Homo sapiens: one gene and its partner. The protein of the gene in region 2 interacts with the protein of the main gene of each other region in a biochemical or structural test. Each region holds a gene or a part of one and is shown on either strand. Other genes may lie near its edges.

Region 1 (3,817 bases), on a different chromosome or scaffold from region 2:
TTGTTTCTTGGTCACTGCTTTATGGAGATCATAAAAATGTCACTTCTTCAAAGGGCCATTTTTCTTTTTCCTAACAGGGTTTCCATCTCAGGAACTTGCCTCTGCAAATATCTCTTTTATACCTACCCCTCGTCACTTCCATTCTGAATTAATTAGATTTCTCAGTAGCATCTGCCACCTTTCCAGTAATTACATCTTCAGTCAATTCATTTGGGAAATTAACCGATATAAAAATGCTTGAGGCAAAAAAGAAGTATATTCTCCAATGTAGGACAGATAAAATAAGGCGTACAGTTTAAATTTCAGCTATTTGTAACACTGCTTTGTACAGTTTCTTTACAAAAATAATGTAGAGGAGAAGATGAAATTTTTCTTCCAAAATGAATACTTTTAGGTATTTTTAGAATATGTACAAGATATTTGGATAGAAGGTGCTCAAATACTTGGTGGATATTCAAGTCTGAAGGAGTCTTCTGAGTTCTAGCAACGAGAATGCCATTAGTACTCATGACCCCTTCCTGCCAGGCCTTACCTGGGGGCCTCACCCACTTTTGTCCTTAGGCGCACAGACTCACAGCAGTTCTGCCAGGGTCTGCCGTCCCCACCCAGCTAAGGAGAGGCAGAACCCTGGGTTTGCTGCTGTGGTGGTAGTTTTTTAAAAGCTTTATTCAGATAGCATTTTAAATAAAACTCACCCATTTTAAGTATACAATTCCAGGAATTTTAATTTATTTTCACAGTTGTACAATCACCACAATCTTAATTTCAGAACATTTTCATCGCCCCAAAAAGAATCCTCCTACTCATTTACAGTCATTCCCCATTCCAACTATAGCCCTCGGCAACTACTAATCTACTTTCGGTTGCCTTCTTTTGGACATTTCATATAAATGGAACATACAGTGTATGTCTTTTTTTGTATCTGGCTTCTTTCACCAAGTCCTGGGTTTTCACTTTTTAATTTTGTTTGGGCAAAGCCCAAGTTTTTTTTCCACCATAGCTACATTGTATAACATAGATCTCCATGAAGACCTCGAGAAACTTGTGTTTAACTATAGAATCCTTACAAAGGCAGCTGTCCTAGAATATTAATCACTGAGGGTCACCAGAATCTGGAGAAAAGCAACAGTTCCGCAAATCTGCTTATTTCCTTTCCTGGAGATATAAGCAGGCAGACCCAAGGGCACAAACACTGGGATGTGAGTCAAAAGGCTTGGGAAAGATTCTCATTTATGTTTTTCTTTGAATTACTGTATACATCTGTGATTGCACCTGGGTGCTGTTGTATAGATGAGGAAACTTAGAACTGAGAACCTTATCCAAAATCAAAGGCCCTGCAAGATGCCAGCTTTGAGATTGGTAAGCAGGTGCTGGCAGGTACTTCAGTTGTGGAAAGTTCCACCCCACCTGAGGTGAGGCAAATGAAGGAGTGAAGTAGGGATGATGATTTCAAGAGGGGTGATAGGGCCTGTGGTCCTGTGGACAGTGGGGGCTGGGCCCACCCGTCTCACGGCAGCCAGGACCATCCTTATAAAAGCGCTGCTGCCAGTTTACAGCCTTTGGAATCAAGGGAAAGAGGAGAGTACGTGTCCCCTGTGTCCCTCTCATGCTCGTTACATAGGGATGCAGGTATGCTGGCCCCCCTATTTTCTCCCTGGTGTGCTTAGTCCCCCAGCCAGTCTGTTGTGTGGTACTTATGCATTCACACTCCTGCAGGTCCCAGTATTCATGCAAACGCAAAACAGGCTTTCTCCATGCACCTGCTAGCTACCTCAGATCCCTTACGGAAAGGTACCTTACATGGTGTCAGAAGGAAATGGAATATGTATTACACTTCTGATTTACATTTTTTTTTTTAGCTGGACCCCAGCATTTTTGAAAGTTTGCAGAAAGAGCGAGTAGAAGCTGGAGATGTGATTTACATTGAAGCCAACAGTGGGGCCGTGAAGGTAATGCCTTCCTTGGGACACAGCATTGTCCCTGATTTGTTTGCCATGAGAAGACCTAAGTGACAAGGGAGTTGCTTTCTTCAGAGGGTGTGGGGTGTGTGGGGAGGGGCTGGTGTCTGTTATGAGGCTGATGGAAGGTCAACTAGTGGCCCTTTATGTATAATAAAGTTTGCCTTCCCTTTATCTTCATTCTTTAACCTTCTCGCGATTAAAACAGATAGTCTGTTAGAAAAAATACTAAAACCTGTTCAGAGGGGGAGGACAGGGTGAGAAACCAAAACAACTTTAGTCACTTTCAAATTGAAATGTGCAGTGTATTTAATCTTCCTTTTATCTCTTTGGTATTTTCTTCCCAAGATATATGCATGTGGGAAGGAACGCTGCATTCGTTGGCATTCTTTTCTATCTGATTTTCAGGGTCCTGTACAGTGTTCCTCACTGTTTAATGGATGGGCATAATACTTCATATCATACAATAAATCATCCACCTACAAAAGAGTCTGAGCAGCTCCTCTGCCTCCAGTTAATCTACTGGATTTGGCCTTTATCAGGAATTGCATACAGTTAAAAGAAAGAAGGGAAAAAGGATTTTGGGAGAAAGTATCAGGTGTTTTTCAACCCAGTTTTTGGAGCCCAGCGATGAGCAGATAGCTCCCTTCTCTTGGCAGCAGGGGAGTGGGGCATATTTGGAGTTTGTCAAGTAGGCTGTCAGGCCTGCAGTGGGAACTGAGACCTTTATCTCACTTAGCCCTGTGCCATTTGGGGACTTGGCAGTGAAAACTTACCAGGCACTCATGTTTCTCTCTTTTTGCAGAGGCAGGGCAGGTGTGATACCTATGCCACAGAATTCGACCTTGAAGCTGAAGAGTATGTCCCCTTGCCAAAAGGGGATGTGCACAAAAAGAAAGAAATCATCCAAGATGTGACCTTGCATGACTTGGATGTGGCTAATGCGCGGCCCCAGGTACTGCCTCGATGCCTGGGTGATCTGGCACATTAGCCCTTTTGTATGTGTGTGGAGATCTGGGAATGAATTGTCAGAGTCTTGCTGCCTTTCTTGAGGTAGACGGTCCTTTTCTATCTGTAATGTTCAGCAATTAACATCGACATGAGCTACGAGGGACTCCTTTGTTCCCATTCAAATGCTCTAGTCACAGATGATTTCATGTGTATTGTTTCTTATCCCAGCCAAGCCTCTGGCCCTGAGCTAGCCAGCTTCCTCCATGGCTTCACTCCAGCAGTGGGCTCACACCTGGGATTTTCTGGGTGTTAATGGCAGGAGGGCAGGAGTGTTCTATGAGCCCTTTACAGGATTTCAGAAAGCCTAACAAAGCTCTTTCTTTCCCCCTGCTTAGCAAAAGCCACAGTGTTTTAGCTTTGAGCTGGTACTGTTGTCTGCTTCTCATACAGATGGATACTTATGCCTTGGCTAGTAAAGTGCAGGAAAGGATGTTATCACTATATGACATTTCTAGGAAATAGTGAATAGTCACTATTAGGGAATAGTTTGTTTTCTGACTTGAAATTTGATCCGTGGGTGTTTTGTTCCTTGGAGCTTTGGTCAAGAGATTACTGAAGACTCATCTTGGACCAACAGGTCCCCTTGGTTGGTGAAATGGCCATCCCCAAACTGACCTCCTGGGAGCCCTTGACCTGAGAAGAGTGCTGGGCTGGGAGTCAGAAGTCAGGAACTGTGTTGCTCCATCACTGACCAGCTTGGTTAATTTGTCACTTTGGGTCTCTGGGTTTTCTGTGGTTTGGGGTTCGGTTTTGAGTTCCCTCCTACTTGGCAAGGCAGTTTTGAGGACCAGACAGGAAACATTTGCTGCCTTTAGCTATTCAGCATTTAGTGAGCCCTTCTGTGTCTC
Region 2 (3,817 bases):
TATCTTCCTTGCTTGACATTCACCTTCACTGTCTCCTCAGCCTGTAGCACTCCCTTGCTCTCACAAAGTCTGAAATGCTATTCAAGACCCAACTGAAATGCCACCTCCTCCTTATTCCTGAAGTGACAACTAACCACTCCAGCATCTCACTTGCAGGATATCTTGTACCTGATCTGTCAAAAACTACATGTACTTGTTTCTTCCACTTCTATTCCTTCCAGGCAAGGTCCATACTTTAATTACTTGTCTGTTCCCTCTGCATCTTGGCACAGGTCCCTATATCTCAAAAGTTTTAATTAGACCCCAATCCCAGAGACAATTATGCTGACCTTTCTCTTCTGGCTCTGACCCATAACCTACATTTTTTTTTTCAACCCAAGCAATGCTAATAAGTAGAAAAATTCATAGGTTCAGCAGAGGACTTTGAACCTTTTTGCTGTGCCTTGTTCTAAAGTGATCAGCAGGAACTGAGTTTTACTAATAGGAGAGAAGCAACACAGTTTCTTCTCTCTCTCCCCCATCTCTTCTGAATCCTTCTCATGAAATTAAAATACCAGAGGAGACAGCTGATCATTTCCACAGGCAGAAATGCAACTTCCTCCTTGCTAGAGAAGAAAAAATAGTTACTCCTAAACAAGATTGCTTTCTTATATGGAATAGTAATCTCAAAATAGGAATGTTGTTTAAGCACCAATTACAAAATAAAGAGGAAGAGTGAGCTGCTTCTCTACTCTGGTGTATATTTTGTAGCTGCAGGGTGGTATACAGAAATCTCTTGGACACAAGGGGAAAGGAAGGAAGCATGTCCACGGGGCACCTCCGAGACACCAAATTTCAACCTTTTTGAATTCCCTTTGTGCCCAGATGAAGAGATGAAATGACAAATATAACAATTTCTCAATAACTAAAATGTCACTCGCCATGCTGCTTAATAATTTTTAAAGCAAATATTATAATCTATGTTCCATCTCAGCAGCAGAACACCTAGTTACTCAGTTGATTTCCCTTATCCTATCACATTATTTGTATTCCCTCGCTCAGGTCTGTGCCAAATGAGTGCCTGTAGACACTCCCTCTTGTGGCCACGGCCCCTACTCAGCTGCTGCAGCCCCTCCCTGCTGCGGTCCTGGGTGATGGCCTGCTGACCATCTGCCTCCCCTGCTAGAAATCCAGGAAGGCGAGGGCTTGAGCTATATGCTCAGCGCTGAGCAAAGTGCCCAGCAGAGACAAGGCTCTAGATCATGTCTCACTGAATGCTTTCCAAAGCAGATTTACTCTGGAATCAGCAACATCAACCCTCTCAAAATCTCTTGCCTCTTTCAGTTATTTTATATGTTCCTGGGTACCATGACTAAAACCAAGAAACTGCTAACAGGGGTTTTGGGTATGATGTTTTTCCAACGTTTGGGAGGGACTAAGAGGTGGCTTTACTTGAGAAAATTCCTTTCAGATTTGAGGATTAAACACTTGGTCCAAGAAGAAAAGGACCTGGCTGTTGGCTGAGCCCTGGAACAAAGCACAAAGCTCCCACGGCTCTCTTCCCGTCTCCCTCCACCCGCAGGGAGGGAAGTGGGTAATCTGGAGGAGAAGAGGAAAAAGAGGAAGTGGGCCAGAGAAGAGAAGTCTGATGGCCAGTTTTCCTCCAGTGCTACGCTAACTCGGTGTCACAGCTTTTCCAAAGATTGAAATACGAAGTTTTTCTGTCCTAATTTCTTAAGACACAAAGGAAACAAGTAGATAGAAAAATAAATAATATTTAAATGTTACAATCATATTAAAGATATATGCTGGGAGTTAATTATTATTTCAATTTTTCACTGTGATTTCCCAAACTTTAAGGTTCCCAAGGAACAGTTTTTGCAGAAGAGTCTTGGGGAAAAGTCCAACTACTATGCCAGGCACTGAAGAGTAAATGAAAACACTTTTTAAGCAACTGGCCTGGGAAGCCTAAATGAGAAGCCTTTCCTTCCAACGTGTCCTTTCTCAGCACTGTCTTTACATGTTCACATGGGAATTACTTCAGAAATGTCATTAACAATATAATGACACCTATAACCCCCAACCCAAGATTTTGACTAATTTACACCTACAAGATGACTTCAGTGATACATGAAATAATTCACAGAGCACACGGACTGGTATTTAGTATGCGACCCTGCTGACTGTTAGTTCAAAAAAAGAACTTACTTGGGTGCTGATATGAGAGGGGCACAGCAGCTGCAGCAGCGTCCACATGAGACATATCCCCGGCAGGAGAAAGCCCGCCCATTTCCAACTGCCTTGGCATGTTCCCTGCAGCTGCATGAGGCACAATTGTCCCATGAGTCCTTAATAATAACACCAAGACAAAGAAGGGCAGTGCAGTGTGGGGGCAACTGACTGGAGCACGGGAACTGAAGCCAAAGTAACTGGGTGCGCCCTTTCCTAACAGGATTCTATGAAGTTCCCAACATAACCACTTGGCAACGTATTTGCTTGTCAGAGTGTTCTCGTAGTTGAAAGAATTAACTTTGTTTACAAAATGAGATTCGTTACCCAACAGGAAAATCAACCCAGTGACAGTGAAGAATTCAATTGGCTTGCTGATCATCATTTGAATTCTATTAAAATATCAATGATTTAACACAAAGACTTTAACAAATATTTACAAAATTTACCAAGCCCTCTCATTTAACTGTTCAAAATATTAACACTTTCAGATTTGAAGATGAAGTTTACAAGGCTAACCAATAGCTTATATGCAAATATAAAGATTTCTCAAGCTGGAAAGAACCTTAGAGATGATAGGCTCTACATGCTTATTTTACACTTACAAAGTGGCTACAAAGTAAGACAGTCTAAGGCAGGGCCATAGCCAGGACACCAGTTTCTGGACTCTTAATATTCTTTTATCTCTATTCTTTTACTAAAAATGAGGTTTTCTAAATCTGAGGCAATCAACTGAATCAGTATATTTAAAAAATAACATCCTTAGGCCGGGCGCAGTGGCTCATGCCTGTTATCCCAGCATTTTGGGAGGCCGATGCAGGCGGATCACTTGAGGTCAGGAGCTCAAGACCAGCCTGGCCAATATGGTGAAACCCCATCTCTACTAAAAATACAAAAAAACTAGCTGGGTGTGATGGCATGCACCTGTGGTTGGTCCCAGCTACTCGGGAGGCTGAGGCAGATGAATCACTTGGACCTGGGAGGAGGAGGGAGATTGCAGTGAGCCAAGATCGGACCACTGTACTCCAGCCTGGGCAACAGAGAGAGACTCCATCTCAAAAAAATAAAAATAAACATTCTTGTATTCCATCAAAGGAAAAAATAAATAAAAATCACTTATTTAAAATCTGATAAGTTAATAATTCATTTATAAGCTTAGCTCAAACTCTGAAATTATTAGTCATACTGAAATTTTTAAAAAGTAAACACACACATGAAAATCATCATGGTAGAAAAATGAGGTGATACATCTGTACTTGTGGTTGTATCACAAAATAATAATGACCCAATTTGTAACTGCTTTTCTTTTTAAACCAATGGATACGTTTCACCAAAACTAAGCTTTCTAGATTTTCAACATATAAAAACTGGTATTTATATTTGAACTTACATTCAAAAGATGATTCAAACTCCTCATTATCCTTAAAAGCTAGCTTGTCCACATCTGAAAATTCACTTTTGTCTTGAAGTTCAGTTTGTCTTCGATAAAGACTAGATTGGAAGGATAAAACTCGTGAAGTTTCAATAATGGAAAACCAAAGAGTACAAGGTGACAAAAAGCCTTTTGTGACTCAAGAAAAGGCTCTACAAAATTCCCTTTCTCTTTGTC

The links.
Region 1: the proteins of OFD1 (region 2) and RUVBL1 form a complex in vitro, tested with the Homo sapiens proteins (one study listed by BioGRID).

Annotation. Positions count from the first base shown.
Region 1 is NC_000003.12:128,099,691-128,103,507, reverse strand, and holds part of RUVBL1 (ruvB-like 1), read left to right. Parts: intron 1-1,859; coding exon 1,860-1,949; intron 1,950-2,763; coding exon 2,764-2,913; intron 2,914-3,817. UniProt on the Homo sapiens protein: Possesses single-stranded DNA-stimulated ATPase and ATP-dependent DNA helicase (3' to 5') activity; hexamerization is thought to be critical for ATP hydrolysis and adjacent subunits in the ring-like structure contribute to the ATPase activity.
Region 2 is NC_000023.11:13,762,226-13,766,042, reverse strand, and holds part of OFD1 (centriole and centriolar satellite protein OFD1), read right to left. Parts: intron 3,700-3,817; coding exon 3,599-3,699; intron 2,328-3,598; coding exon of another isoform or gene 2,326-2,327; exon of another isoform or gene 2,299-2,325; coding exon 2,188-2,298; exon of another isoform or gene 2,184-2,187; intron 1-2,183. UniProt on the Homo sapiens protein: Component of the centrioles controlling mother and daughter centrioles length. Recruits to the centriole IFT88 and centriole distal appendage-specific proteins including CEP164. Involved in the biogenesis of the cilium, a centriole-associated function.